3 linked regions of the Homo sapiens genome follow. The protein of the gene in region 3 binds, or shares a complex with, the protein of the main gene of each other region. Each region holds a gene or a part of one and is shown on either strand. Other genes may lie near its edges. The genes, in order: PRPF6, PPIH and LSM6.

Region 1 (10,969 bases), on a different chromosome or scaffold from region 3:
GCCAGGCGTGGTGGCACATGCCTGTAGTCCCAGCTACTCAGGAGGCTGAGGCAGGAGAATCACATGAACCTGGGAAGCAGAGGCTGCAGTGAGCCGAGATCACGCCACTGCCCTCCAGCCTGGGTGACAGAGCAAGACCCCGTCTCAAAAAAAAATAAATAAAATTTTTATTAAAAAAGAAAGAATAGAAAGCAGGGTCTCTGACAAATATCTGTACACCCGTATTCACAGCAGCATTATTCACAATAGTCAAAAGGTGAAAGTGGTCCAAGTGTCCGTCAGCGAATAAACAGGTCAGCGAATGCGGTCTACATAGATGAGCGAATGCGGTCCACACACACCAAAGAGTCAAGTCTCATCCTGCCTTAAACTGAGAACATGCTGGCCGGGGCGCCGGGGCTCATGCCTGTAATCCCAGCACTTTGGGAGGCCGAGCCACGTGGATCACTGGAGGTCAGGAGTTCGAGACCAGCCTGGCCAACATGGTGAAATCCCATCTCTAACTAAAAATACAAAAAAATCACACTTCTAATCCCAGCATCCTGGGAGGCTGAGGCGAGTGGATCACGAGGTCAGGAGATCAAGACCATCCTGGCCAACATGATGAAACCCCGTCTCTACTAAAAATACAAAAATTAGCCAGACATGGTGGCACACGCCTATAGTTCCAGCTACTCGGGAGGCTGAGGCAGGAGAATCACCTGAACCCAGGAGGTGGAGGTTGCAGTGAGCCGAGATCACACCACTGCACTCCAGCTCGGGTGACGGTGCCAGGCTCCGTCTCAAAAAAAAAAAAAAAAATTAGCTGGGCTTGGTGGTGCACACCTGTAGTCCCAGCTACTTGGGAGGCTCAGGTGGGAGAATCATTTGAACCCGAGAGGCGGAGGCTGCAGTGAGCCAAGACCATGCCATTGAACTCCAGCCTGGGTGACAGAGAGAGACTCTGTCTCAAAAAAAAAAAAAAAAAAAAGAACATGCTGACGCATGCTGCACCATGAGCTAATTGAAATAAGCCTGTCACAGTAAGGTAAATACTGTATGATTCCAGTCATATAAGATCCAGAGAGTAGTGACATTTATAGAAACAGAGAGAACGGTGGATGCCAGGGGCTGGGGAGAAAGCGCACGGGGACTCAATGTTTAACAGGTACGGAGTTTCAATTTGGGAAGATGAAAACAGTTCTGGAGATGAATGGTGATGAGGTTGTATAACAACATGAACATAATTATGTCAGTGAAGGTATGTACAGTCAAGAATGATTAAAATGGTAAATTCTGTGTTACATATATTTTACCACAAAAAAATTACTGTGACAGTTTTATTTATTTATTGAGACAGTCTCACTCCGTAACCCAGGCTGGTGTGCAGAGGCGCGATCATAGCTCATGGCAGCCTCAAACTCCCTAGCTCAAGCAATCCTTCCACCTCAGCCTCTCGAACAGCTGGGACTACAGGCACCACCAGGCCCAGCTATTTCTTTTAGTTTTTGTAGAGACAGAGTCTCACCATCACCATGTTGCCCAGGCTGGTCTTGAACTCCTGACCTCAAGCAATCCTCCTACCTTGGTCTCTCAAAGTGCTAGGATTACAGGCATGAGTGCCTGGCCCAAAAAGTTTTACAATTTCTATGTAAACAAATTTCAGGCTGGGCATGGTAGTTCACACCTGTAATCCCAGCACTTTGTGAGGCCAGCGCGGACAGATCACTTGTGCCCAGGAGCTCCAGCCCAGGTTGGGCAACCTAGTGACACCCCATCTCAACAAAAAATACAAAAATTAGTTGGGTATGGTGGCACATGCCTGTAATCTCAGCTACTTGGCAGGCTGAGGTGGAAGGATCGCCTTAGCCCAGGGAGGTCAAGGCTGTATGTAGCCAGCCATGATTGTGCCACTTTTTGTTTTTGTTTTTGTTTTTTATTTTGAGACAGTCTCACTCTGTTGCCCAGGCCGGAGTGCACTGGTGCAATCTCGGCTCACTGCAACCTCCAACGCCCGGGTTCAAGCAATTCTCCTGCCTTAGCCTCCCAAGTAGCTGGGATTACAGGCGCCCGCCACCACACCTGGCCAATTTCTGTATTTTTAGTAGAGACGGGGTTTCACCATGTTGGCCAGGCCAAAAGTAGTATGTTCCTTCGTGGTATCTGATATGCATATCAGAAAGAGTTCTGTACTTCACTGGTGTCTAGAGCACCTAGTCTCCAGATCAAAGTACACGTTCCATGCAGGGCCACAAGACAATTTACTGAGAGGCAGGAAAAAAACACACTTTTTAAAAAATTATTATTTTATATTTTAAAAAAAGGCCAAGTGCAGTGGCTCACACCTGTAATCCCCGCATTTTGGGAGGCCAAGGCAGACAGATCACCTGAGGTCAGGAGTTCAAGACCAGCCTGGCCAACATGGTAAAACCCCGTCTCTACAAAAAATACAAAAATTAGCCGGGTGTGGTGGTGGGCACCTGTAATCCCAGCTACTCAGGAGGCTGAGGTAGGAGAATCACTTGAACCCAGGAGGTGGAGGTTGCAGTGAGCCAAGATCACACCATTGCACTCCAGCCTCTGAGTGACACAGCAAGACTCTGGGTCAAAATTTTAAAAATCTGCGGAATTATTCAGGCAAAAATCAAGCCAAAAAAAAAAAAAGGAGAAGGAGAAGAAGGAGGAGGAGGAGAAGGAGGAGAAGAAAAAGGAGAAGAAGAAGAAGGAGAAAAAGAAAACAAAACAAAATTAAACTGTCTAAACCTGTCCACAGGAAAATGCTGTGTGACAAACTCACCTGGCTCAGCCTCATGTCCATCAGAGTGTTCCTCGCTTGGCCAATCTTCCTCATGTCCAGCTCACCTGTGCCAGGTGTCATCAGTCCTGGCGTCATTCCACCTGGGTATGGAGTGTTTAGTCCACCTGGATAGGGTGTGTTAAGACCTCCAAATTGCTGGAGGGGAAGAGAGGAAAGGCAAGAATAAAACAACGGTTTGCACTGCATGCCCAAGAAATTTACTCTCTGAAATACTTCCCCAGTGGCCTGACATATGCACAGCTGTGCAGACAGACTCGGCCACAGCATAGCCATGACCTGCAGAAGCATTGAATCCAACACCACCCACCATTCCTGCCACTGATCTAACAGGACTAAATGGGCCACATGTGCCCTTTTTTGGAAGCTCACAGTTTGTCGGGGATCCACTGAGGTATGGTTCTCTCCGGTCTGTAAATGTTTGGCAAAGAAACTGTCAGGAACAGGGGTCAGCTTCTCATAGCGTGGGTTCCGCTGACGTTTATTTCTGGCATCGCCAACCTCGGGGATGCTCAGCCACTCTTCTTCTGTGACTTCTGCCAACTTCCTCTGGAAATATCCAGCCCCCAAAAACATTAATTCTCTGACAGAATTTCATGTGCCCAGGTAGGACCATGCCCTCTCTCACCCCTAGCCTCCAGATCACCAAGCTTTAGAAGGGATTTGGATGCAGCAACTGTTTTTTACTTTTGTTTTGAGATGGGTCTCATTCTGTTGCCCAGGCTGGATTCAGTGGCACAATCACAGCTCACTGCAGCCTCAACCTCCCAGGCTCAAGTGATCCTCCCACTTCAGCTTCTCAAGTTGCTGGGACCACAAGCGTGGGCCACCATGCCTGGCTAAGTTTTTATTTTTTGTAAAGACAGGTTCTCCCCAAGGCTGGTCTCAAACTCCTGGGCTCAAGTGATCCTCCCACCTCAGCCTCCCAAAGTGCTGAGATTACAGATGTGAGCCACTGTACCCAGCCCCAAAAATAGTTTTCTACTTCACTTAGAAAAATCAATTTAGGCCGGGCACGGTGGCTCATGCCTGTTAATCCCAGCACTTTGGGAGGCCAAAGCGGGCAGATCACCTGAGGTCGGGAGTTCGAGACCAGCCTGACCAACATGGAGAAACCCCATCTCTACTAAAAATACAAAATTAGCCGGGCATGGTGGCACATGCCTGTAATCCCAGCTACTAGGGAGGCTGAGGCAGGAGAATCGTTTGAACCTGGGAGGCGGAGGTTGCGGTGAGCTGAGATCGCGTCATTGCACTCCAGCCTGGGCAACAAGAGCCAAACTCCGTCTCAAAAAAAAAAAAAAAAGAAAAAGAAAAGAAAAATCAATTTATTGGATCTGTTCAACTTCACTAAAATGTAAATTATTCTCTCAAAGCCCAGGGGACACAGTTTAGAAAATCTTACGTATAAATGGGGCCAGACGTGGTGGCTCACGCCTGTAATCCCAGCCCTTTGGGAGGCTGAGGTGGGCAGATCACTAGAGTTCAGGAGTTTGAGACCAGCCTGGTACACATGGCGAAATCCTGTCTTTACTAAAAATACAAAAATTAGCTGGGTATGGTGGCAGGCACCTGTAATCCCAGCTACTTAGGAGGCTGAGGCACAAGAATTGCTTGAACCTAGGAGGTGAAGGTTGCAGTGAGCTGAGACCACGCCACTGCACTCCAGCCAGGGCAACAGAGCCAGACTGCCTCCAAAAAAAAAAAGAAAAAAGAAAAAAGAAAATCTTAGGTATAAATGGAGTCAAAATTACAAAGAAAATAAGTTCATTTGTCCTACCTTTTACAGTAGGGGAAGGGTTTTTTTTTACACACATATAATTAAACATACTGAAGCAAACACTTTCTTCTTCTAAGCAATGACCCCCTAAATTAAAAACGTAAAGTCTCATAAATTCCACGTAAGAGCAGTCTGAGTCTCTGCGGGTTAGGGTGAGAGCGTTAGAAACCGCACACCATTCACCGCTTCATCGGCTCACCTTGAGGTCTGAGAACTGCTGTTGGATTTTGGGGCGTTCCATACGATATTTCTCTATTTCTTCTTTCTCCCTTTGCTCCCTAGGAAATAAAACATGCACACATCAGAAACACTGCATGTCTGTTCTGAAGCAAATTTATTATCCATCTCAATTAAATCACCAAAAAGAACAATTCCATACTCTTAGTAGCTAAATCAAATATATATATATATATATACATATACACACACACACACACACACACACACACACACACACATTTTTTTTTTTGAGATGGAGTCTTGCTCTGTCACCCAGGCTAAAGTGCAGTGGCGCAATCTCAGCTCACTGCAACCTCCACCTCCTGGGTTTAAGTGATTTTCCTGCCTCAGCCTCCCAAGTAGCTGGGATTACAGGTGCTCGCCACCACTCCCAGCTAATTTTTGTGTTTTTAGTAGAGACGGGGTTTCACCATCCTGGCCAGGCTGTTCTCGAACTCCTGACCTTGTGATCTACCCACCTTGGCCTCCCAAAGTGCTGGGATTACAGGTGTGAGCCACCGCACCCAGCCCAAATCAAATATATTTTAAGGTAACTATGAATACATTCTTAGCTGGGCATGGTAGCACACACCTGTAATCACAGCTACTTGGGAGGCTGAGGCAGAATCATTTGAACCCAGGAGGCAGAGGGTGCAGTGAGCCAAGATCGCACCACTGCACTCCAGCCTGGGCAACACAGAGAGACTCTGCCTCTAAATAAATAAATATAAATACATTCGTAAGTCTACTAATTCAATTATCCACCAAATAAAAACATGTAGAAATTCATTAAAATAAAAAAAAAAGATCTTACTTTGATCTAAATACCTCCATTTGGACATGTGTATATTTACTGCTTGAAAATTCACAAAATCCCAAAGGTAGGACCATCCCATAAACACCTAAGAAGGCCAGGCGTGGTGGCTTACACCTGTAATCCCAACGCTTTGGGAGGCCGAGGTGGGCAGATCACCTGAGGTCAGGAGTTCAAGCCTGGCCAATGTGGTAAAACCCCATCTATACTAAAAATATGAAAATTAGCCAGGCGTGGTGGCGCATGCCTGTTATCCCAGCTACTCAGGAGGCTGAGGTAGGAGAATTGCTTGAACCTGGGAGGTGGAAGTTGCAGGGAGCCAAGATCATGCCATTGCACTCCAGCCTGGGTGACAAGAGTGAAACTTCGTCTCAAAAAAATAAAAATAAAAATAAAAATTAGCTGGGCATGGTGGTGGGCACCTGTAATCCCCAGCTACCTGGGAGACTGAGGCAGGAGAATCATCTGAATCCAGGAAGTGGAGGTTGCAGTGAGCCAATCTAGCCTGGGCGACAGAGCGAGACCTTGTCGCAAAACAAAACAAAACAAAACAAAACAAAAAAACACCTACAAGGAAAAACAGTAACTATCCTAGTTACCACCAAACACTCCAAACACTCTACTGAACTCATCCCACCTTTCCTTCCTTGCTTCCTTCTCTTCCAAGTAAATAGTTCACCTCTAACCAACTCAGCTCAGCTGCACAGCTCTATGTGCCAGAACATAACCCATGTAATTGCACTTCGGTGTTGAGACTACATGTGAGGATATGGTATTCACAGTACTGTTCTTCCTACTTGTTTGTATTACGACAGTTTTCAGAATAAAAAGTTTTAATAAGTACACTACTTTTTTTTTTTTCTTTGAGACAGTCTCACTCTGTCACCAGGCTGGAATGCAGTGGTGCGATCTCAGCTCACTGCAACCTCCGCCTCCTGGGTTTAAGTGATTCTCGTGCCTCAGCCTCCTGAGTAGCTGGGATTACAGGCATGCACCACCACACCCAGCTAATTTTTGTATTGTTAGTAGAGACGGGGTTTCACCATGTTGGCCAGGATGGTCTCGATCTCCTGACCTCATGATCTGCCCGCCTCGGCCTCCCAAAGTGCTGGGATTATAGGTGTGAGCCACCGTGCTCGGCCAAGTACACTACTTTTTAAAAACATTTAATTTAATGGCTTTCTTCATGGGTCCGTGTCACCTGCTGTTTTTTGTTTTGTTTTTGTTTTAGAGACACGGCCTTGGTCTGTTGCCCAGGCTGGAGCACAGTGGCATAAGCATAGCTCACTGTAGCCTCTAATTCCTAGGCTCAAGCGATGCTCCTGCCTCAGCCTTGGGAATGTAGCTGGAACTACGGGCATGTGCAACTGGCTAATTTTAATTTTGTTTTTGTAGAGACAGGGTTTCACCATGTTGCCCAGGCTGGTCTCGAACTCCTAGACTCAAGTGGTCCTCCTGCCTTGGCCTCCCAAGGTACTAGGATTACACATGTAAGCCACTGCACCCAGCCTGATGTTTTTTAAAATGCATTAACCCTGGAGGTTCCAATCAATTTTTAAAATGTAGGGCTGAGTGTAGTAACTCATGCCTGTAATCCTAGCACTTTGGGAGGCCAAGGTTAGGGGAGGCAGGTGGATCACTTGAGGCCAGGAGTTCAAGACCAGCCTGGGCAACATAGACAAAAATTAGCTGGGTGTGAGCCTGGCGTGGTGGCTCAAGCCTGTAATCCCAGCACCTTGGGAGGCCAAGGCAGGCAGATCACAAGGGCAGGAGTTCAAGACCAGCCTGGCTAACATTGGTGAAACCCCGTCTCTACTAAAAATACCCATCTCTACAAAAATCAGCCGGGCGTGGCGGTGCATGCCTGTAATCCCAGCCACTTGGGAGGCTGAGGCAGGAGAATCACTTGAACCCTGGAGGCGGAGGTTGCAGTAAGCCGAGGTTGCGCCATTGCACTCCAGCCTGGGCAATAGAGTGAGACTCCATCTCAAAAAAAAAAAAAGAAAAAAGAAAAATTAGCTGGGTGTGGTAGCACGTGCTTGTAATCCCAGCTACCTGGGAGGCTGAAGCAGGAGAATCGCTTGAGCCAGGAATTGAAGGTTACAGGGAGCTATAATCAAGCCACCGCGCTCCACCCTGGGTGACAGAGTAAGATCCTGTATCCAAAAAAAAAAAAAAGTGAAATGCAATGCCATTCACGTTTAATTACTATAGGTATAAAATTTATGCACAATGATTTAATAACGAGCTTCTAAAAAGATGTCCAGGCCAGGCACATTGACTTATGTCTGTAATCCCAGCACTCTGGGAGGCCAAAGGATATGGTTTACATCTGTGTCCCCATGAAATCTCATGCTGAATTATAATTCCCAATGTTTGAGGTGGGGCCTGGTGGGAGGCCACTTGAGTCTTGAGGGCAGACCCCTGATGGCCTGGTGCTGTCCTCGAGGCAGCAAGTTTACATCACGTAAGATCTGGTTGTTTAAAGTGTGTGGCAAGACTGGGCACGGTGGCTCATACCTGTAATTCCAACACTTTGGGAGGCTGAGGCGGGTGGATCACTTGGGGTCAGGAGTTCAAGACCGGCCTGGCCAACATGGTAAAACCCTGTCTCTACTAAAAACACAAAAATTAGCCAGGTGTGGTGGCGCGTGCCTATAATCCCGGCTACTTGGGAGGCTGAGGCAGAAGAATCACTTGAGCCTGGGAGACTCAAAAAAATAAAAAATAAATAAAATTCCAGAAGAACTATATTTTACTATTCTAAAATTATCTTCAAAAAATAAAACATTCTACATACATCACAGGAAGTTATGATTACATGTATAAAAAGCAACAGAGCTGGGCGCAGTGGCTCACGTCTGTAATCCCAGCACTTTGGGAGGCCGAGGTGGATGGAGCACAAGGCCAGGAGTTTGAGACCATCCTGGCCAACATGGTGAAACCCCGTCTCTACTAAAATACAAAAACTAGCCAGGCGTGGTGGCAGGCACCTGTAATCCCAGCTACTTGGGAGGCTGAGGCAGGAGAATTGCTTGAACCCGGGAGGCAGAGGTTGCAGTGAGCCAAGATAAAAAAAAGCAACAGAAAGAGGAAATGAGCCAAAATGTTAACTGTTACTTTCTAGACTTATGAATAAATGTTATGCTTTTACCCATACTTACTCTTATTTTCCTAATATTCTATAATGAGAACTTTTTATTTTTTTCCTTTTTGAGACAGTCTCTGTGGCCCAGGCTGGAGTGCAGTAGCGCACTCTTGGCTCACGGGAGCGAGCCACCACACCTGGCTTCCGTTCGTTGCCTGTGCTTGTGGGGTATTACTCAAGAAATCTTTGCCTAGTCCAATGTCCTGTAGAGTTTCTCCAATGTTTTCTTCTAGTAGTTTCAGCTTGAGGTCTTAAAGTCTTTTAATTTGATTTTTGTATGTGGTGACAGAGAGGGGTCTAGTTTCATTCTTCTGTATATAGATATCCAGTTTTCCCAGCACCGTTTATTGAAGAGATTGTCTTTTCCCCAATAAATATTCCTGGTACATTTGTCAAGAATGAGTTCACTGTAGAGGTACCTATTTGTTTCTGGGTCCATTCTGTTCCATTGGTCTATGTGTCTGTTTTTCTGCCAGTACTATGCTGTTTTTGTTACTACAGCTCTGTAGTATAATTTGAAGTCAAGTGTTCCCCCAGTTTTGTTCCTTTTGCTCAGGATAGCTTTGCCTATTCTGGGTCTTTTTTGGCTCCATGTACATTTTAGAATTATTTTTTCTTTTTCTTTTTTTTTTTTTGAGACGGAGTCTCACTCTGTTGCCCAGGCCGGAGTGCAATGGCACGATCTCAGCTGACTGCAACCTCTGCCTTCCAGGTTCAAGTGATTCTCCTGCCTCAGCCTCCCAAGTAGCTGGGATTACAGGCACCTGTCACCATGCCCAACTAATTTTTGTATTTTTAGTAGAGATGGGGTTTAGCCAGGCTGGTCTCGAACTGCTGACCTCAAGTGATCCACCTGCCTCAGCCTCCCAAAGTGTTGGGATTACAGGCATGAGCCACTGCACCTGGCTATTTTTTCACTATCTGTTAATAATGTCCCCAGTATTTTGATACGGATTGCATTGAATCTGTAAATTACTTTGGGTAGTATGGATATTTTCTTTTATTTTAAGATGGAGTCTCACTCTGTTACCCAGGCTGGAGTGCAGTGGTGCAATCTCAGCTCACTGCAACCTCGACCTCCTGGGTTCAAGCGATTCTCCTGCCTCAGCCTCCCAACTAGCTGGGACTACAGGCGTGCACCCCCACACCCGGCTAATTTTTGTTTTTTGGTTTTTTTTTTTTTTGAGACAGAGTCTTGCCCCGTCACTCAGGCTGGAGTGCAGTGGTGCAATCTCAGCTCACTACAACATTTGCCTCCTAGGTTCAAGCAATTCTCTTGCCTCAGCCTCCTGAGTAGCTGGGATTACAGACGTGTGCCACTACACCCAGCTAATTTTTGTATTTTTAGTAGAGACAGGGTTTCACTATGTTGGTCAGCCTGGTCTCAAACTCCTGACCTCAAGTGATCCACCCACCTCACTCTCCCAAGGTGCTGGGATTACAGGCGTGAGTCCCAGCGCCTGGCAACTTTTGTAATTTTTTTAGTAGAGACAGGGTTTCACCACGTTGGTCAGGCTGGTCTCGAACTCCTGACCTCCAGTCATCCACCTGCCTCGGCCTCCCAAAGTGCTGGGATTACAGGCGTGAGCCACCGTGCCCGGCCATTTTTGTATTCTTAATAGTGACAGGGTTTCTCTTTGTTGGCCAGGCTGGTCTCAAACTCCTGACCTCAGGTGATCCACCCACCCTCAGCCTCCCAAAGTGCTGGGATTACAGGTGTGAGCCACCACACCTGGGGGCATAGCCTGCAACTTTAATCAATTTGTCAGTTCCAATAGTGTTTTGGTAGAGTCTTTAGGGTTTTCTAAATATAAGATCATATCATCTGCAAACAAGGATAATTTAACTTCTTCTTTTCCAATCTGGATGCCCTTTTATTTATTTCTCTGGTCCGACTGCTCTAGCTAGGACTTCCAGTACAATGTTGAATCACAGTGGTGAAAGTGGGCATCCTTGTTGCGTTCCAGTTTTTCCCCATTCAGTATGATACGAGCTGTGGGCCTACCATATGTGGCTTTTTTTTTTCTTTGCGACACAGTCTCATTGTGTTGCCCAGGCTGGAGTGCAGTGGCACAATCTCAGCTCACTGTAACCTCCACCTCCTGAGTAGCTGAAATTATAGGCCTGAGCCACCACACCCAACTAATCTTTGGATTTTTAGTAGAGACAGGGTTTTACCATGTTGGTCAGGATGGTCTCAAACTCCTGACCTCA
Region 2 (10,969 bases), on a different chromosome or scaffold from region 3:
TGAAGTGGTATGGGTGATCTGCATTCTACAGAGGAGGAAACTGAGGATAAGAAAGGTTAAGGACCCTCCCTAGGGGTAATAGCTAACAGTTGTTAAGCCCTTACATGTTTAGCAGTACATTTCACATAAATTCTCTGTAGTTCTTTCCCCCAAATTTACATCAAACCCTTGCTCTGCCTTTTGCTTTGGCAAGTAAGCTTTCAGCCCCTTCTTCTTATTACTGTTCAGGTACCAGATCATGCACTTGATCAACTCTAACATGCCCTAATTTATAACGAAAATCCTTTTTTATGGTTAATTATCCTTTCAGCTTAATCATTCAGGAAAAGAATAATCTTCAGGTTTTTTTTGTTTTGTTTTGTTTTTTTGAGACAGAGTCCCACTCTGTCGCCCAGGCTAAAGTGCAGTGGCATGATCTTGGCTCACTGCAACCTCCGCCTCCTGGGTTCAAGCAATTCTTCTGCCTCAGCCTCCCGAGTAGCCAGGACTACAGGCATGTGCCACCACGCTCGGCTAATTTTTGTATTTTTAGTAGAGACGGGGTTTTGCCATGTTGGCCAGGCTGGTCTCAAACTCCTGGCCTCATGTGATCTGCCTGCCTCGGCCTCCCAAACTGCTGGGATTACAGGCGTGAGCTACCGCACCCAGCTAAGAGTAATGATTTTATAATAGCCAAAGTGATAGTGTATTTTGAAATCAACGTTAATCTAATACAATAATAACAACATCTATGTTTTTCTAAACCATAAAATCTTCTCAGTATTCTTTGCTCTCTGTTTCAGGGTCATAAAGGATTTCATGATTCAGGGTGGAGATTTTGTTAATGTAAGTACTATTCCTTTCCTATCAAAGACCCGTAGTTTTAGTTTTTGTTGTTATTGTTGCAATTGCTGTTTTTACTACAGAGACCCAGTCTTCAGGCTTGAGAACAATAGCCAGGTTTGATGTGGGTGTTGGAGAGAATGGTGATGGGGAAGTTCTTGAAAGTGGCTGGGTACGACTGACTGTAGATAACCGACTTTAGCACTTTGATTGAGGCATTAAATTCCATGGTCCAAATCTCAGCCTTTTTGAGCCAGAAATTGGACTTTTTAAGAATACCTATAGATGATCTATGATAGGTTCACACTAATTAGTCATATGAAACTTAGTCAGAAATCAGCTGTGGTTTTTGTTTTTTTCTGAATGGAGGTAAGTCTCCTTCTAGTGGGCTAAATGCTTGTTTCATTTTCTCTTTTACTTCTGGGTGTCACAGTGCCTGGAAAGCTGAGTTTTTCATAAGAAGTTGATTTGTGGGCAAGGAATCAGAGCAAGAGAGGTAGATAGTTCTGGAGGAATTTTGCTCTATTCACTGAGAGAGCCCAGTGAAATAGTTCTTTTTTGCTAACCATAGCTTTCTTGTAAGTAGACTGTTTTTGTCCCCCATATGAAGCCTCCCTCCCCACCCCAACCTTGGAGGGTGTGGGATAAACTACATTTTTTCTTTCTTAAACCTGCTTTTGTCCTTACCCCCCACTTCTGAATGGTCTTTCTTTACTCTTATTAATATCATTTGGTTAGTTGTGTTGCTGTTTTCTTGGATCTGGGAGACATGTGTTCTCTTTTATGTGTTTATTTAGTCTGAATCTCATGAGTTTTTAAGACCTCTTTCCTTTCCTATGCAATACAGGGTTGCAGAGTGGCAGGTTTTAGGCCGAATTACGTTTTTACCTATGTTTTGATTCATCTGCATGGTGTTGTATAACTGTGAAATGGCACAAAAAAATCCTAGTTTTTTTTTCTCTTTAAAAAATGGAAAGTGGAAGTATGCTGGGCCTGCATTTCTCACAGTGGCAGTGACAGTGACAATTGGTTGGAATCAAGGAACTGGTCCCTTTGGACATGGCATATCTTTGCCATTTCACCAGTCTCCACAACTGTTTCCCTTATTTACGTTGCCTGCTCCTGTGGGCATTTGTTTGCAGCCCCGGGAAACAGATAATGGTAGTAGGGTTTGTTAGCTGGTAAGAAGGGCTGAGAAGCTATCCTCTGCCTTCTTTCCTTTTTTTTCCCCTAGGCTTCCCTGTTGCCTTACAAGGAGAGGAATAGCTTTTTACTAGTCTTTGCCCCAGGCACATCTGATCACTTGTCGATAACTCTGGGGTTAGACAATAGTTGCTCAGTCTGAAGGCCGAGTTAAAAGCAATTGCTGGTAGGGCTCACATCTGTAATCCCAGTACCTTGGGATGCTGGGAGGATTGCTTGATCCCAGGAGTTTGAGAACAGCTTGGCAACATAGTAAGACCCTGTCTCTACAAAAATAAGAAAAGTTATTTTTTATTTTTTTATTTTTGGTGGTGTGCGCCTGTAGTCCCAGGTACTTGGTAGGCTGAGGTAGGAGGATCCCTTGAGCCCAGGAGGTCAATTCAAGGCTGCAGTGAGCCATGTTCATACCACTGCACTCCAGCCTGGGCGACAGAGCAAGACCTTGTCTAAAGGGAAAAAAAAAAAGCTTGCTTAGAACCTTCCTTGGGGAAGGCAAAATGGAATGAGCAAGAGTCAGAAAAATCAGAATTTGAGACCTTCCAAAGTTTGACCAAGAATATTTGTTTGTTCATTTATTTTTGGTTTTAATAGTATTTATTATTTTGGTTGCAAAAGAAAAGTGCAAAGAAGAAAATAAATCACCAAATGAATTACCCTCATTCTCACCTCACAATATACTATTGGCATTTTGGTTTACAGTTGTCAGTCTTACCTTAGTATGTATATGTGTGTTTATATAATTTTTAACAGACTTAAAATAATCTATATGTTTTACTTTTTTTGTACTTCATAATTGTCCATATTTTCCCTTGTCGTTATGTCTTCTAAAACATGCTTTCTAATAGCCACCTAATATTTCATTATGAATAGACAAGTTATTTGATCAATTCACTATAGTTGAAGATAAGTTGCTTTCTATTGTTTGCTCCAAATTATTAATTTTGTAATTTTCCCTATTGTTTCTGGAGAGCTATAGATAACGTGATTACGGAGAATGGCACGGTAACTGATGTGTCCCTTAGGTTCACTGGGAAATTGGAGATGAACTTGTTTTCTCTCTTCCTTCTGTATTAATATGTATGTGTAGTTAGTTAATGACATATTAGCTTATTTGATTATTTATATAGTACTATATTGTTTGTACAGTGCTTTTTACAGACACTATCTAATTGAATCTTCATGATAACTGTAAAGAGTAGGTAATTTCATCCTCACTTGATAGATGAGGAAATTGAGGCTCACAGATTGGAAGTGACTTTCCCAGCTCTAAGTGATAGATCTGGAACTCAAATTCAGATCTTTTTTTTTTTTAGATGGAGTCTCGCTCTGTCGCCCAGGCTGGGGTGCAGTGGTGCGATCTTGGCTTACTGCAACCTCCACCTCCCGGGTGGGTTCAAGCGATTCTCGTGCCTCAGCCTCCCGAGTAGCTGGGATTACAGGTACCACCACCACACGTGGCTAATTTTTGTATTTTTAGTAGAGATGGGGTCTCACCATGTTGGCCAGGCTGGTCTCAAACTCCTGACTTCAGGTGATCCACCCGCCTCAGCCTCCCAAAGTGATGGGATTACAGGTGTGAGCCACCACACCAGGCCAGGTCTTTCTAATATACAGACTTGATTTTATTTTATAATATTTAGGCAAACAAAGGTTTGAATTTGGACAGTTTTTCTTTATTCTCTGGCTTATATTAATGGTAGTTCTTTTCCAAAAAGGGACCCTTGATTCCTCACTGGGTCAGTGTTTTCCCTTTCTCCCATGTACTCTTTCTCTTTACTAACTGGCGAGGAGAGCTTGATCTTTTTGGCACTCCTCAATATTGCCTTTAAAACTCAGGGATTCTATTTAAGGCACTGCAAATATGGCCTTGGTCAAATTGTTTTATTACCCAGACTTCAGTTTCCTCACATGAAAAATGGGGAAGATGATAATGCTTATTCCTCAAGGTTGCTGGAAGAGCAAGGAGATAATGCAAATAAAGCTAGTTTAAGCAGAAATTGGGAGTTTATAATAAAGGGAGTGTTTCATGGAACTAAAGGAAGAAATAGAACTAGGAACTAGAACCATAGAGAACCAAGGCAGTTCTTTATCTCCGTTTCTCTAGTGCTCGCTACACATCTGTGTTGTGTTCTCTCTCTGTTCTCTAGCCCAGCTTGCAAATGGTAGTCACATCCAGCTTTCAGGTTTACATGTTACAAATTTAGCCTCAAAGAGAGCATCTATCCCACCTCCAGATTCCCAGAGAAGGAACTCTAGTTGGCCCAGAGTGAGTTAGGCATCCTTCCCTAGATCAATCAACTATGACCAGGAGGGTGGTATCATGTTGTACATACAGACTGCCAAGAGCTCACCCACCCTCTTAGATAGTTTAGGGGAATGGGGTGGTAGTCACTTAAGTGGGTACTTTTATGTGACTGAAGGCATGAGAGTCTTCAGGAATGGCAAGGATTGAGTATGTGATCACCTTGTTGCTGTTCCCTACTTTGTCTGCATCTTAATTGATCGTTCTAGAGGCCCAGCTGTGACCTCTTTTATCCAGTCTATAAAATGCTCCAGCCAGTCTTTGTGGGCTGTAGGTACCTTATATAAGGCTTGATCTGATTGCAGGGTGGGGTCAAATAGGTGCAGCTTCCAAGATGACCAACAAGAGTAAGAGTAGACTTTAAAGATGTCATGCTTTAGGTGCGACAGTGTTCTTCCTCCGGTTTCCAGGGACCCAACACTCCAAGTCACTAATACTTCCCTTCTCTCTGCTCAGGGAGATGGTACTGGAGTCGCCAGTATTTACCGGGGGCCATTTGCAGATGAAAATTTTAAACTTAGACACTCAGCTCCAGGCCTGCTTTCCATGGTAAGTGAGGTCCAATCAAGGTTTTGGGTTATAGCCAGCTGGTTCCTGGGCCCCTCTTGAGGCCCAGTGCTGTCTCTTGGGATGGAAGCAAATGCTTTCCTTCTCTTGCTTGGCCCAGGACTCACCTTTACCACCTCCTTTCTTAGTCTGGTTTGACTGAGAAAACCAGTAGGTATGCTGGCTCACGCCTGTAATCCCAGCACTTTGGGAGGCTGAGGCAGGTGGATAACCTGAGGTCAGCAGTTCGAGACCAGCCTGGCCAACATGGTGAAACCCCATCTCTACTAAAAATACAAAAAATTAGCCAGGTGTGGTGGTGGGTGCCTGTAATCCCATCTACTCGGGAGGCTGAGGCAGGAGAATCGCTTGAACCCAGGACGGGGAAGTTGCAGTGAGCTGAGATTGCCCCACTGCACTCCAGCCTGGGCAACAAGAGCGAAACTCCATCTTAAAACAAAGAAAAGAAAGAAAAGAAAACCAGTAGGTAAGGCCCACTAGCAGGCTAGCAGGCTGGGGAACTAAAATCTGAACCAGGATTTGTGTCTGGGCATTCAGCCCTACTGCTCAGAATGTAAACAGTTGTGCTTTCAAGACATATTCATAGCTGGGTGTGGTGGCTCACACCTGTAATCCCAGCACTTTGGGGAGGCCGAAGCAAGAGGATTGCTTGAGGTTGAGGTCAGGAGTTTGAACAATCTGGGCAACATAGTGAGACTTAGTCTCTACTTAAAAAAGAAAAAAAAAATTAGCCAGGTGTGGTGACACACACCTGTAGTCCCATCTACTAGGGAGGCTGAGGTGGGGAGGATTGCTTGAGCCCAGGAGTTTGAGGCTGCAGTGAGCCATATCCTGTTCATCTCTGTATCCTTGGATCCTAGCTTAGGCCCTGGCTCATAATAGGTGCTAAGTTAGATTTACTGAAAAAAACCATAGAGGAATCAGTGTTACAAGCTCTTTTGGAAATCTTGCCCTTCAGCTAACATGGCCGGGGAAACTTACTGCAGGTATATTTGGTTTCCATCAGGCGAACAGTGGTCCAAGTACAAATGGCTGTCAGTTCTTTATCACCTGCTCTAAGTGCGATTGGCTGGATGGGAAGCATGTGGTGTTTGGTAAGTCCTACTCCTGTCTCATGGTCCAGGCCCCATTCACCCTGGATGGAACCTCCAGAGGAGTTAGTTCTCAAACTCTTACCAAGAAAGCTCAACCTGTGTAACTGCTTAGGTGGTAATAGAGAAAACAGAAATGGTGGGGAGGTGGGGAACATGTGTGGCTAGAGAACTAGAGGGAAGGACAAAAGGACCATTTGATATAGTATGGAACCACTTAGGGAGAAAACCCAGTTGCTAGCACCAAAGAAATGCCATAGAGGCAGCATGATACGGTGAGACTTTGGAGTCACTCAGGTATAAGTTTGAGCCCTAACTCTACTTATTACCTATGACCTTGAGCAAGTCATTTCACCTCTACCGCATCTTAATTTCCTAAAGTTAGTATGAGGGTTTAATGAGAAAATAGCTAAGAATGGGCTTTGGAAGCTGGAAAATGCTATGTAAACAAGAATAAAGTCCAGCTCATGCTCTTCCTACAGGAAAAATCATCGATGGACTTCTAGTGATGAGAAAGATTGAGGTAAGTACTGCTTTGATTTTTCTGTTTCTCTGCCATTGTGGTCTGGTACTGTCTGACTAGCGTGCAGGAGCTAGAGAAGGGGGAATGAGCTCCAGTTTGTTAGGCTGTCTTCATTGCCCCAGGAAAAGGGAAGAGAACCACCTAAGTTAGCCTGTCTGGCCAACACTGAGGTTTGGCCTCTGATGATCCTGTTGCCTACTTGATAAAATTCTACTCCTCAGCATTGCGTTCAAGGTCCTTCATGATTAGTCCCTGTCTACCTCTCCATGGCCCCTTCTTCTGCCATTGCCTCTTCCATGTTCCAGTCACATCAGGCTACTAGCTCTTCTCTAAATCTGCCATGCATGTCCCTGCTGCTTGCTCTTTCCTGCCCCTGAGCCTTTGCTCACACAGTTTCCTCTAGCCGGAATGCTCTTCTTTCCTTCCCTCCTGATGGAATCCCATTCATCCTTCTAGGCACAGTTCAAATACCCCTCTTTTGTGAATCCTTCCCTGACCTCTTTAAGCCCCAATTTAGTTGCCTATCTAACCCTTATCCAATTCTCTCTTATAACTTTTTCTTATATAATCATAAGTTTGATATTTTCTAAGTGTTTTGCATTTTCTCTTTGATAGGTATTATATGCTTTACCTGTCTGCCAGGACATGGACTGTTTCTGAGTGCTGAGTCCTTAGCACAGGGCTGGCAGGCATCAGTAAAAGTTTGATAAGGGAACGAGGAAGTGCCTGAGTGGATGAATCTCCATTGTGCTTTTTTTCCTAGAATGTTCCCACAGGCCCCAACAATAAGCCCAAGCTACCTGTGGTGATCTCGCAGTGTGGGGAGATGTAGTCCAGACAAAGACTGAATCAGGTAAGTGTGTCTTTCTCCTATTAGGTTAGGAATCAGACCTCAGAGAAGGCAGCATGGTCTAGTGGAAAGAACTTTAGTCTTGAAGACATGAGATTGAGCCCAGTTCCTCCGTGTATGGCCTTGGAGTAGTCACTTTCCTTCTCTGAGCACATTTCCTCATCTGTCAAATGGAAATACTGTAATACCTATCTCTCAGAGTCACTGTAAAAATAAAAAGAGAAAGGGTTGTAGGAGCACTTTACTTTTCTATCACTTTGTAATGTACAAAGTATCAATGTGAAAACTACTCAGGCAGTTTGTAACAGCACTCTCAGACTACAGTTCCATTCAGTAGTCCCCCTAGAAAGACCTGGCTCCAGGCCTGAGTAACTCTCTGCTGGGACCAGGCCAGGCAGCCAGGAGACACACCTGTCATGCCTCTCATCAGAACTGATACTGCAATTCCAGGCCTCGACTTCATATTCGCTGGCCTCATAGGTGAATGCCTTGCATCTTCCAGCCTACATGGACTCATTTCTTACCCGTAATTACCACTGCCTGCTCTGCGCTGGGCAGCATGCTAGCTGCAGAGAGGGGGACAAAGAATTGAAAGATGTCTCCTTTCAGGAGCTCATGGAAAGTAAGACATTCCCAGAGGTGATCACTAGTAATATGAGTGACATTGCCAAGTATGAGAAGAGTACAAGGGAGAAATCCATCACTTCCAGCCAGGTGAGGGGTAGTGATGTTTTGTTTTTCTTTTTTTTTTATTTTCAAACCTGCAAAAAAGTTAGAAGATAATACCTTGAACACCAATATATCTTCACTTAGATTCACCAATGATTAACATTCTTGTTTTATTGCTTTGCCTTGACATTTGTTTTTTTCTTTCCCTTCTTGCCTCCTCACCCATTTCCATTGCCTCTCCTCCTCCCTCCTGCTCCTCTTCCCTCCCTCCATCCTTTCCTTCCTTTCTTCCCATCTTCCTTCCTTTACCCTTTCTTCTTCTCTTTCCCATTTGAAAGTTGCAGACTTCTTGACACTTTACCCCTAAGTATTTCAGCAAGGAACTCCTAAAAATAAGAACATCCTACGTAACCACAATATTATCTAATATATAGTACATTTTCAAACCTCCCCAATTGTCCCAAAAGTAACTTTTGTAGCTTAAAAAAAGGTGATCCAATCAAGGTTCCCATATTTCATTTCATTTGGTTTACACAAGTAACATAATACACTCTCATTGTGAAAACTTTCACACCAAACAGATAAAGTGAAAGCCCCTCTTGACAATACCCACCTGCAATTCCACTCCCCTTTCCAAAGGTCACTTCCTTATTAGTTTGATGTATGTCCATCAGGGCCTTTGCCTTGCCCATCTAATTTTGGGAGGTTTTCTTTTTCCCAAATGAAATCATACTATATTTTTCATGTTCTAAAAAATATGTCTTGAAAACTTTTCCTTCTTAGTTCATGTAAAACCACCTTGTATTAAAAAATGAAAACAGCCCGGCAGGAGGTGGCTCACTCCTGTAATCCCAGCACTTTGGGAGGCCAAGGAGGGCAGATAGCTTGAGCTCAGGAGTTCGAGACCAGCCTGGGCAACCTGGTGAGATCCCGTCTTTCCAAAAAAAAAAAAAATTAGCCAGGTGTGGTGGTGCATGCCTGTAGTCCCAGCTACTCAGGAGGCTGAGGTGGGAGGATTACTTGAGCCCAGGAGTTTGAGGCTGCAGTGAGCTATAATCACACCACTGTACTCCAGCCTGGATGACATCAAAAAAAAAAAAAAAAGGAAAAGAAAAACCGAAACTGCAGTGCAGGCTGAGCATCCCTAATCCGAAATCCCAAATGCTCCAAAATATGAAGCTTTTTGAGCACTAACATGACATTAGAAGTGGAAAATTCCACACCTGACTTCATGTGATGGATCATAGTCAAAAATCTGTTTCATGCACAAACGTATTAAAAATATTGTATAAGATTACCTTATACAATAGCTATAAGTAGCTAGGACTACAGGTGCATGCCACCACGCCCAGCTAATTTTTATATTTCTTGGTAGAGATGGGGTTTCATCATGTTGGCCAGGCTGGTCCCCACCTCAAGTGGTCTGCCCACCTTGGCCTCCTAAAGTGCTAGGATTACAGGCGTGAGCCACTGCCCCCAACTGAGCATTAGTTCTTAATTTTATATGTTGTAATTGTTTTCTTCAGAATATATTTTAAGAAAAAAATTAGTATTGTGTTGCTTAAGTTTGGTGATATTCTTTGTTAAAGAGAAGTTCTAAATTTTGATGAAGTCCAAATTATCAGTCTTTCACTGCTTTTCAGTTTTGTCTCATTTAAGGTCTTTACTACCTCAGATCACAATGTTTTCTGTGTTTTTTCTAGTATTTCTTTTTATATGGTGGAGCTAAGATCATTTTTCTAGTATTTTTAAAGTCTTATTTGTACATTTATAAAATCATCTATAATTAATTTTTCTGTATAGTGTTAAGATAGGACTTTTTCTTGTCTTTTTTTCCAAATGGAGATCCAGTCAAATACCTGACCATTTTAATGACTCTACAACACACCTTTATCTGTGACCAACTCTGTTCAGAAAGCTGGCACTTACAGGCATTCAGTAAAAATTTATTACATGAGTTAAGTAGAGAGGGAGAATGTCAGGCATTTTAGGCGGGGAACTCGTGTGAGCAAATGCTGAGGCTGGAATGCACAAGTGTGTGCTGAGAGCTACATGTGGACCTCTCTTGTTCAGCCAGATGATCCCTTCTCAGGCCCACTTGACACCCTGAGCTTTCCTTTCTGCCAATACTGGGTCCCCCTTGGGCCCAGCCTGCTCTCCCTCTTCAATGGCTGCTGGCCATTCCCTCCGTCTCCTACTCATTTCTTTGCTGTAACTAAAGTTGAGTTCATAGGTCCTTTCTTTTCAAAGACTGACCACTGATCACTACCAGAGGACAAACGATAACAAAAAGAATAAAGTTTAGAAATTCTTAATGTTGGGGCCTCTTTTCTGTATCTTTTTGAGTCTTTTACATAAAGTTACTGGAAGTCCTTGTTGAGGTTTTATTTCTGAGGGTGGGGATCATCAACCCTCCCCGCTCTCCCCCACTGTTAGCAAAAGTTATATGAACTTTTGCTTCCAAGAAAGCCCTTCTTCTCAGCCTGCAACCCAAGCAGAACGCATTCCTCAGGTGGCCATTGTACATTCCACAGGCCCGCTAGACCAGGACTGTCCATAGGCTGTGATGATGGAAAGATTCTAGATCTGGGAGGTCCAGTATGGTTGCTACCAGCCCCATGTGACAACGGAACACTTAAAATGTGGCTGGTGCAACTGAGGGACTAAACTGTTAACTTTTTATTTTTTATTTATTTTTTATTTTTTTGAGATGGAGTCTCGCTCTGTCGCCCAGGCTGGAGCACAGTGGCGCCGTCTTGGCTCACTGCAACCTCTACCTCCCGGGTTCAAGCAATTCTCCTGCCTCAGCCTCCTGAGTAGCTGGGATTACAGGCGCACGCTGCCATGCCTGGCTATTTTTTGTATTTTTAGTAGAGACGGGGTTTCATCGTGTTAGCCATGCTGGTCTTGAACTCCTAAGCTCAGGTAATCTGCTCATCTTG
Region 3 (10,287 bases):
CCATGGTACCCAGATATTTGGTCAAACATTACTCTAGATGTTGCTATGAAGCTATTTTTTAAAGATGAGATTAACATTTAAATAAGTAGACCTATTTAAAGTAAATAAAACAGACTACCCCCCATAATGTGGGTGGGCCTCATCCAATCAGTTGAAGGCATTAATAGGAAAACACTGACTTCCTTGGAGGAAAAGGGAGTTCTTCCAGCAGCCAGCCTTCAGACTTGAGTGGCAATTCTTCCCTGGGTCTCCAGGCTGCCAGCCTACCCTGCAGATTTTGGGCTTGCCTCCACAATTGTGGGAGCCAAGTCCTTAAAATCTCTCTATACATCCTATTGGTTCTGTTTCTCTGGAGGAACCATGACTAGTACACATCATGTGGTAGGTTACTACCACTGTTCACCAGTATTTCTGGTTGTCTCTCCTGGGTCCATGAAAGGATTATACTTTTCTGAAAACTTAAAGTAAGCCCTGACCGTGTAACTTGCTTTGCCTAATAATGGGGTAGAAGTGACACTAGCTTTAAGCAAAAGGTTTTAGGAGCCAGGGAGTGATCCTTTCTGCCCTTCCCCTGCCACAGCAGATGCTGATTCCTCAGGTTGAGATGGTGGAAACATAAGGTGCTACCTCCCTCGGCCTGGGCCCCCAGGTGACTGCAATCAGTGGAGTCCCACCTATGGGCCCCTGTGCACATGGAGCATAAGTAAGATCATTAGTTGTTTCAAACCACTGAGATTTGGGGTTTGTGACTAACACACTACTGTGGGCGGGGTATAAGGAGCCCTGTATCCCAGCAACATCCACTCTACCGTACATATTACACATTTTTAATTTTTTCATTTTTCCAAGTTCAATAAAACGTCTATTTGATATAAACACTGAATAGTGACTTGAAATACCGTATGCACATGATGGTAATAAAATTGCCTAAGATTGTTACGTAAACTTTTCATAAACTAACCTCTCCTTTAATCCAAATTATTGGTATATTGCCAAACTCACCAACATCCATCCCATTATAAAACTTGGAATAAATTAAGCCCATGTGAATTTGGACATTTGTGTAACCTAGGCATTGAAAACTAGCCTATCCCAAGTGTTTCAGTGTTTTATATTTCATGAAATTCCTGGAATATGCCTCTGCCTTTCTATCTGCTATAACTCCCAAATTACTATGAAGAAAATCCTTCAGTGCTGCAGATGAGTCAAAATGGGTCTTCAAATAAAAAAAAATCCAACATGACTGTTCAGTTAAACCACACAAAAGCTGGCTTTTCTAGGAGAAGGAAAAAAACAAAGATGGGAGGCTGAACTACCTGGGCCTGTGGGTAAACAGGGCATAGTTACGTTCAGATTTCAGAATTATCCACTCCTGAGTTTATTTGGAATTTCAAGATACGAACATACAGTTGAGATGCTCAAATCCATCTAAAATGTTCAGGTTTTTAAAAGAATTCTTACAATTTTGGCCCAATTTTTTAAAAAAAGGATGGAGGGTACCACTTTCCCCCATAAATACCCAAACCTACAAACTCAGTATGGAAGGTGCAATGTCATATTTCCTTTTTTATCTACCCCCCTAAGGTATAGCACAGTGCCTGCCTACAGCTGTCATCCAATAAATGCCAAACTGATTTCTGCCACCACATTCTGAAATCCCCACTCCCTGGCCACCTCCCGCATCTTTTAAAGGAGGGACTAACAGGTATCAGAGAGGGCTCTCTCCACTGTCCTGTCGTACATGACACATACCACTCTCACCGTCCACTCTTGCATTTTCACCCCCACTCTGGCTAATTGGACTTCAACAGTGAATCTAAGTTAGTCGGTCAACAACAGAGACACAGCTGTACTGCTGTGTACTGGTGGTACAACAGACAGCAGCGACTGGAATTAAGATAGTTGCTGGATATTCAGACCCCAGAGGTCAGGACTAACCCTGCCACTCTTAGGTGGCATCTACCTCCACAATGGTCAGGGGCAAGCTTAGCGAAGACAGGCAGAGACACTCCACTGAGCACACGGCCTCCTGAAACCAGGTCGGTGGGGAGAAAAACTGAAGGTTGTCTTCCTTTCACCAACAATTTCTTTTTGTGGAGAAAAAAAAATTATAGTTAATGCAGTTGGGCTGTGGGGAACAGCAAGGCCACAGCATGGGCTGGGATTTACCTCTGAATCTAAGAGCTAGCCAGTACTCTGGAGGATCATCTGCTCGGAGGACAAAGGTCAGTGCAATCATAGGCGTGTCTGCCCCCAGTAAGGGAACATTCTGGATCTTTGGCCTGGAATGCTGTACTGAGGTCACCCAAGAGTCAGTGATTATCAAAGACAATTTTACCCCCTAGAGGTTGCTTCTATTGTTACAGATTATTATAGCCTCCGGGGCGGTAAGCCTTACACAGCAAGTCCAATGCTGCTGCACTTTTAGACCTTAAGGAAATCCCGTAAGCATTTGTTACTATTATTAATTAAGCATAATTAAGCGCTCCTAGCATGCATTCCATATTGCCTTGAGCAGAAAGCTTCAGATGTAAACCATCTTTCAATAACATTCCCTTCCTGAATGCTGAGATGAGAACATGAAAATCATACCACATGTCTGCCATCTGTATTTGTACTTGTCAACAGCTCTGTTTTGGGATAAACAGTTTTGAAATAAGAATCAATTCGACTTGTTGGAAGATTAGCCAAGGAATAGCTCAAAGACCAAAACAGAAAATGAAGTCAGATAGTCTGAAAATCGAGCACAATTTTGTTTCTCGCTAAACATTCTGTTTTGTCACAGCCCAAGAGAAAGAGTGTGGCAGACAGGGTTTGGGGGCACACAGACAGGGAAAATGTATGTTCTCAAGTAAAAAATTCTTCAACCTGGAACAAATGTCTTCGCTACAATGCAACTAGAAATCATTCACTGACCTCTAGGAGACTACAGTTAAGAACAAAGCAATTTAAGCATTTACACTTTGTTTCATGGTTCTACTATGTGAAGGTATACACAGGGGACAACTTGAGCGGGTTCAAGTGCATAATACAGTCCTTTATTACCATAAAAATGGCAGCACTTCCCAAAGTTGATCTTGATTAAAAGTAGTTCCATGGTTGAAAACAGTACTCCACTGTAGAGCTATTAAACTAGAGAGATGGCAAGGGGAAAATAAAGACTTATATATCAAAGGCGAGGTCAGGGAAGAAGTTAGAAAAAACAGGACGCTACAGATTAGTGGGAGACTACAATGGAATTGCTTTTAGAGGTGGCTGATATAAGTGAATGAAGGGACACAATAACCTGCAGCCCCACATATTCTACAAAACAAATGAGAACATGTATGCTCCACTTGGAGAGCCATCCATTTTCTCCTTAAAAGAACTCATTTATAAAAGAGCAAATTGGTGATTTGTACTTACATACTGGACCTTTTCCAAGCCCCTGTCAAGAAGTGATAAATTATTGAAGCATAGCATAAAGTGTTTTATTTTCAGTGTGCACACGGTAAAACCCTGTGAAATGCTTCTGTTCACCTTTCCCAAGTTATTAATTAAAAAATAATTGTTTCCAATTACTCTCTGATCTTTAAAATAAACCAAGACAAAACACTACATACACCTCTCCAGAATCAGCACTGCCCCTTCCCTCTCTCCTTCTCGATCCTGCCCCCCATCCTTCAACCAAGCAGTTGTTTCGAATCACACCATCGGCTCCTGAAATAGGAATGCTATTTAGATTGGGAAGGGAGGGAAGAGGAAGTCCAATACAACATTCACACAATTGTCTGGTATTCATTCAACCACAGTGCCCAGATATATTTGTTGTTCCTAGAGACAGCGTAAAACTGTTTGGAGAATAAAGCAGGGTTGTGGAAAGCTCATTAATAAATTGTGAAAATCCTCTCAGCAGGAGTCACATAACCAGAGGAGCTGCCTTGTGCCAAGCAACATAAAGCCTGGTGCTCTGCTCCTGGACAATGTCAAAGGCAAATACAGCTGATTTTTGAGAAAGGCCTCCCTACAGCCACTTGCTAGACCAGAGTTAGGAAAAATTCTTTCCCAATCTCAGCTCGGCAATTAGAACCTGAATTATGTTTACAAACTCTAGGCTTTGCTTTAATCTGACTGTGAGAGATGTACAGGAATGGCCCCTCCCCTACTGTGTTCATAAACTGAGAGAATAACGTTGATGCCAATGCTCCTGAAAGGGAGCAGGGAAACCTAAAAAGTCTAATTGCATAAGGAGATGCAGGGGGACCACTGACAGGAGGGCTTTCTCCTCACTGAAATCTTGTTCATCTTTAGGATTTCTCCAGCACCTCAGTTCGAATTCCCACTCCTTATGTGCAAGTGGCACTCTTGGCTTTCCAATTCTGTTTTTTATTTAGGTGACTCAATCAGTGGCTGAACTTCTGATCCTGTGGCCCCTTTTTGTAGCTTCAGACTGAAACTGGATGCCTTTGTAGAACATATTCACGCAAGGATTCTGTATGAACAGAAAAGGATGCAATAAAGGAGGATTCCTCCAAAATGTTTTAATTATATGTCCATACAATATATAAAATATATGCATCATTTTAGCTGGATAAGAAAAGCAAGTCAAATGAAATGACACTTCTCGAAACTTAAGTTAAATAATCTTGTAGGAAGAGGTATATTTTGTCTTTTTTTAATTATTTTAGCATTCTGTACACTGACAACGAGGTAAAAGAAAATGACTGAAACTTACAAGTGAAAGAACATTTCACAATTAAATCCACAATTGTATACATTTATCTTACTCACATGTCAGTGAAAAATCACCAACTATTATAAAAAGAGGACAAATTGTATCACAAAAGAAGCAAAAATTAGAAAAAATTCATAAAAAAATATATCCAACTATGAAAAGCGTTGCTCTCTTGGTGTCTTCACATCCGTCTCTTCTGTGTACTGATGTACAACACTGAAAAGAAAAAAATACATAAATTGAAATTTAAAAAACCCTGCTTGTAAGTATACATAGTAGCAAGTTTAAAAGCCAACAGATTTTGGTCTGATACATCTGACATTTAAAAGGAATTCTCGTATCATTCAATTAACTCTAGAAGTACTGTAAGACTAGTTTTATGAATCTACACCCAGGTTTGATGTCTTACAAAACTGTCCTAATTTCATCCATGTGTCTCACTGACTCTTTAAAGTGTGACCAGGAAGATAAAATAAAATATATGTGAAAGTCCCTGGTATCTAAGAATGCTTTATAGTTAGAAGTATAAGAATTATGCTTTTCAGGGCTGAACACGGTGGCTCACGCCTGCAATCTTAGCACTTTGGGAGGCTGAAGCGGGTGGATCACTTGAGCTCAGAAGTTTGAGACCAGCCTGGGCAACATGGTGAAACCCCGTTTCTACCAAAAATACAAAAAATTAACCAGGCATGGTGGTATATGCACTTGTAGTCCCAGCGACTTAGAACGCTGAGGTGGGAGGACTGCTTGAGCTTGGGAGGCAGAGGCTGCAGTGAGCTGAGATTGCACAACTACACTCCAGCCTGGGCCACAGAGCGAGACTTCATCTCAGGAAAAAAAAAAAAAAAAAAAGATGCTTTTCAGAAAGTAAATCAGTAAATCTAACCAGGCTAGATCTCAAATTAAGAATAAACAACATATTTTCATCTGTCTCCCCAATACAAACTCTAAACTTGCTGTTTACCTTCTTAAATGCAACAGGATAAACAAGAGCTAAGGAGTTTATTTTTTATTTTTATTTTTTAATGATACCAAAGTCCTTATTCTGAGTTCCCGTTAAAAGTCTCATACTTTGGTGTTACCTAATGTTCTGCTTAGTGGTCTTCTCATGACTACCAACATGAACTCGTAGGATGTGTGGTCCGTAGGAATGAAACAAAATGAAATGCTTGGGTCACTTTGGCCAAACTAGAGGTGGTTCTCCCTTCCACCTTCCATGCCTACTCGGCTTCTGAGAGGTCTGCTCAAAGCGAACAGTAAGGTGTCTTCATCAAAGAACATAGCACAGATGAATCAAATAAGTCAAGATCCTCTTTAAGAGCCAATGATGTGAACTTGGGAGTCTAAAGATGAGTGTCACTGATTACATCATGGGAAATGTGACATGAAGGGAAGCATCAGAATGCCAGTACAGCCGCCCCCCAACCCTGCCCCCCAAGTCCTAGGGGTAGTGTGCACGTTAAAGGATCTACCCTATCAACACGCACAGAACCCAACCTGCCAGTGACTGCTGCCATTAGCTGTCTTGAGGTGAGACAAGATCATAACATTTCTTAGGAAAAAGAGGAGGTCAAATAAGGATATGAAAAATAGGATAAATAATTCTATAAATAGAAAGGACTAGAAAGCCAGGAAATAATGTATGTAAAAATATGATATGAAGAAATAAGGTCCTGTAAGCATAGGGGACAGACTCTTATTATAAAAGTCAGGAAGTTTAGTTTATAGCAAAGAGATCCAACTATTTAGGGGGTTGAAGACATCCAGAATTAAAGAAATCAACAAAAAATCTGAACTCAAGAATCCCAGAGTTTCTGGGAGATGGAACCAAAAAGTGGGGTAATTCTCATAATTCTGATATCTTTCCCTCCCCACCAAAAATACAAATATGACTTTATTATAATTTTCATTTTTAAACTAGGTACTTAAAAATAACTATAAAAATCATAGCAATTTATTAGTTGTTAAAAACTGAGTAACTTTTTCTATTTTGCCATTTTTGCCAAACTGAAGGATGCAAATCTGCATAGAAAGCATCTGAATGTTTAATAGAGAAGGGACAAATAGGACGAACTGCCAAATTATGCAAATCAAAGACAGCAGGGAAACGGTGCCCATTCTTACATCTCCAACTTCCAGGCTACAAGAAGCAGGAATATGTGTTGGGGAGATATACTACACTATATTCGAGAAAGCAGGGTTCCAGGTAAGGAGAACAATGTCCCTCAGTTCCTCATCACTAAAGGAAGGGAAGGAGAGAATTTTGGTTTCAAAATTCCATGAAGCATCTACAAAATAACTGGTCAAACTGAAGATCTGACATATAAGCATTTTAAAATAATCAAGCCTAAAAGTGGACTTTTAAATTATCTAGAAACCTCTTTGGTGATCTGGATTATAAATAGAAAGGCTTATTTTGAATGCTGTACTGTAGGGCGAAGAAATGTTACCATTGTTTCCTCGGATAAATGCATCCCCATACTTATTCTTCAGTTGTCCATTTACATATTCTTCTGTCTGCTCCAGGGCTATATTCATGTAGCCATCCAGGCAAGCCAGGACCCCTGCAGACATATTTAGTCAAAAAGAAGATACACAAGGCAAATAAGAGTTGAAAATTACAGGGTATACCTTAGAGCAGACAATCTCTTTATTCATTAGTTCTTAGATGCTTAATATAAAAATTCACACCATAAATGAAACTCAACAGCTTAAGCACAAAACAACTCTATGCCAATCTGAATGAAGTCTAGGAAGGCAGTCACGCACCCACTACTACCCGGTAAAACAACAAACTGTCACTTCCCTCATGGTACGTATGACCACACAGAAACTTTTAAAGCATTCAAAAAAGTAAGAGAATAAGACTATTCCGGCAAAAATACCATTCTTTGAAAGCTAAGCACAAGGTGGGCAATTATGCATAAACAAATGATCCTTGGTTCCAGTGGCATTTCCTACTTTAGCCACTAAGTGAAATACGGGTCTGGCAGATTTATTTCATTCTTTTACAACATCTATTGCAGCAGATGAATGTACTCCAGGGTTAAAAGGAAGTCTCCACAATCTGTTAAAATAATAGAAGAGGAGACAGCAGGTGCTCCCGAAAGAACATCTTAAAGCTGTGACTCACAGTGAAGAGCAGCTTGAGAATATAGGGCAACATATTGCATTATAACACATCTTGTTCTGTTTTGTTACAGCTATAATATTTTCCAATCAAAACTAATAGAGAAAATGGCCAAAAACATTCGAGGGAGCTTTCAAGGAAACAGTTTGAGTCAATCTTTAATTGTGTTAAGATGGTATAAATTTTGTAAAATTTGACCTGATGATCTTTTTCAAAAGATGAAAATCTGTAAGCCTCTAATTCTGTCTCTAATTTAAAGTGGTATTTCCTAGAAAAAAAAATTTAAGTAAAAACAAATACTAGATTCAATTCAGTCGAGTCTATAGTTTCTCATTTGATGTCTTAACTTCATTAATATGCTCCTCACTCTCTGCCTCTGCCCCCATTATCCTCTAAACAAAAAAGTTTCCTTTCAAAATTGTGTAATGACAGCAAAAGACATTAATCTACCAGAATTCTGCTAAAAGCGGTAAACTCTCAAAGAACGAGAATGGACTGTGAATAATAAAATTATTTCCTAGCAAAAGAAAGCTTAAGCTACAACTTTAGCTCGTTTCCTGCTGTACTATTTTACATACAAACTGCAATTATAAATGAGCAAGAAAAATCTGAGGCACAATATGCAAACCTGTTTGAAAACCAATGAAAAGAATTTCAAAATGAAATGTCCAGGCTGGGCAAAGTGGCTCATGCCTGTAATCCCAGTACTTTGGGAGGTAGAAGCTGGCAGATCACTTGAGGTCAGGAGTTCAAGATCAGCCTGGCTAACATGGCGAAACCCCGTCTCTACTAAAAATACAAAAATTAGCCAGGCATGGTGGCAGGTGCCTGTAATCCCAGCTACTTGGGAGGCTGAGGCAGGAGAATCGTCTGAACTTGGGAGGCGGAGGTTGCAGTGAGCCAAGACTGAGCCACTGCACTCCAGCCTGGGCGAAAGAGTGAGACTCGGTCTCAAAAAAGAAAAAAGAAAAAAAAAAAAGAGTTCACTTCTAATTAAAATATCTATTCTCACAGCAAAGGCAAAAACAAACAAACAAACAAACAAGCAACAACAACAACAAAAAAACTGCCCAGGGGGTTAGAAATACAACCCTTTCCTTCCATGAGATAAACTACTATACAAAACCAAAAACAAGACATTTTCTCAAAGAGAAACTGCTACAGAGAGTTGCTGGAGTTTTTCTTTTTTTTTTTTTTTTGGTATGTTGTTGTTTTGCTTTGGGGTTTTTTGGGGTTTTGTAAACCACAAAATAAGCACGTTCCTTTAGTAAGGCTATCTAATAGTATAAAACATTTTGCTTTAATAGTATAAAGGCCATTCATAAGAGGAAAAAAAATTATGGTTACTATCCATGTGAAAGACTCCTGAATCTCACTAGTAAACAAAGAAAATATATGTAGAATGAGATATTACTTGTTGCCAATTAGATTGGAAAAGATGAAAAAAAGCTAATACAAGAGTTGGTGAGAACATGAAGGATAAACCCAAGTTCCCTGATGCAGGGCCATGGAATACTCTCTGACTTGTAAATCCTAGCCCAGGGAATTGATTCTAAAGAGATGTTTGGTCAACTTCACAATATATGTCAAAGTAGAAGAGTTGTTTATAGTGGCAAAAAACTGGTCAACACCTAAATGTCCATTAATAGGAAATTGGTTAACAGTAAAAGCAAAACCATGGTACAGCCACACAAGAGATTCCTATGCAGCCATTAAACCCTCTATATTATTACAAAACTAAATGTACTGTTTCAACGTTTAAAAAAAAAATCAGGTTGCATGTAGTTGACTCCATTTATGTCAAATTATGCTAATATAGAGGTCAAAATTGGTAAACTGTCTCTGGATAGTAGCATTGGGGATCCTTGGCTTTCTTCTATATACTTTTCTGTATTATTTCCTTTTACATTTCTAAAATTAAAACAAAACTAAAACATGTATTGCCTTTATAAATAGAAAAATTTTCCCTAAAGAGTACAGAGAAAAAAGGTCAGGCTGGTTCATCTCTTCAATAAAGTGGGTACTGAGAAGACATTGAACACAATGTCCTCACTTTAATCAACTGTCAAACAGATTAAAACCCCTAGAAGTCTATTACTTCCTATGGGCCCATCATCAAAAGTTCGCAGGTGAGAGGCAGTACACGGAGACATTATACTACCTCAGTATTCCGTATGAATCCATTAATTTTACTATAAAAATAAAATTAAACTGGAGATACGTTATTAATGTCAAGAAGCTAAAGGAGTACATAATCACCAGAGTGGTTTCTTAACAAGGCTTATGAGCCGAGCCTGAACTTGAGTCCTAGCTCCTCCTCTACTAGGTGGGGATAATCAATAGAGATTTCAAAGGAAAAAGCTCAAGAGATTACTATGACTATTAATTATTCAGAAAAGAGACCAAAAAAAGGCCACAAAAACCTGTGCTATGGTTTGAATGT

The links.
Region 1: LSM6 (region 3) and PRPF6 share a complex: the UniProt entries of both Homo sapiens proteins name them as parts of the U4/U6-U5 tri-snRNP complex.
Region 2: LSM6 (region 3) and PPIH share a complex: the UniProt entries of both Homo sapiens proteins name them as parts of the U4/U6-U5 tri-snRNP complex.

What each region holds. Positions count from the first base shown.
Region 1 is NC_000020.11:63,987,290-63,998,258, reverse strand, and holds part of PRPF6 (pre-mRNA-processing factor 6), read right to left. Parts: intron 4,853-10,969; coding exon 4,774-4,852; intron 3,344-4,773; coding exon 3,167-3,343; intron 2,933-3,166; coding exon 2,777-2,932; intron 1-2,776. UniProt on the Homo sapiens protein: Involved in pre-mRNA splicing as component of the U4/U6-U5 tri-snRNP complex, one of the building blocks of the spliceosome.
Region 2 is NC_000001.11:42,660,080-42,671,048, forward strand, and holds part of PPIH (peptidyl-prolyl cis-trans isomerase H), read left to right. Parts: intron 1-782; coding exon 783-825; intron 826-4,783; coding exon 4,784-4,876; intron 4,877-5,900; coding exon 5,901-5,988; intron 5,989-6,467; coding exon 6,468-6,508; intron 6,509-7,271; coding exon 7,272-7,340; 3' UTR 7,341-7,361; intron 7,362-7,967; exon of another isoform or gene 7,968-8,072; intron 8,073-10,969. UniProt on the Homo sapiens protein: PPIase that catalyzes the cis-trans isomerization of proline imidic peptide bonds in oligopeptides and may therefore assist protein folding. Participates in pre-mRNA splicing.
Region 3 is NC_000004.12:146,184,265-146,194,551, reverse strand, and holds the end of LSM6 (U6 snRNA-associated Sm-like protein LSm6), read right to left. Parts: intron 7,279-10,287; coding exon 7,165-7,278; intron 4,931-7,164; coding exon 4,896-4,930; 3' UTR 3,017-4,895; downstream 1-3,016. UniProt on the Homo sapiens protein: Plays a role in pre-mRNA splicing as component of the U4/U6-U5 tri-snRNP complex that is involved in spliceosome assembly, and as component of the precatalytic spliceosome (spliceosome B complex).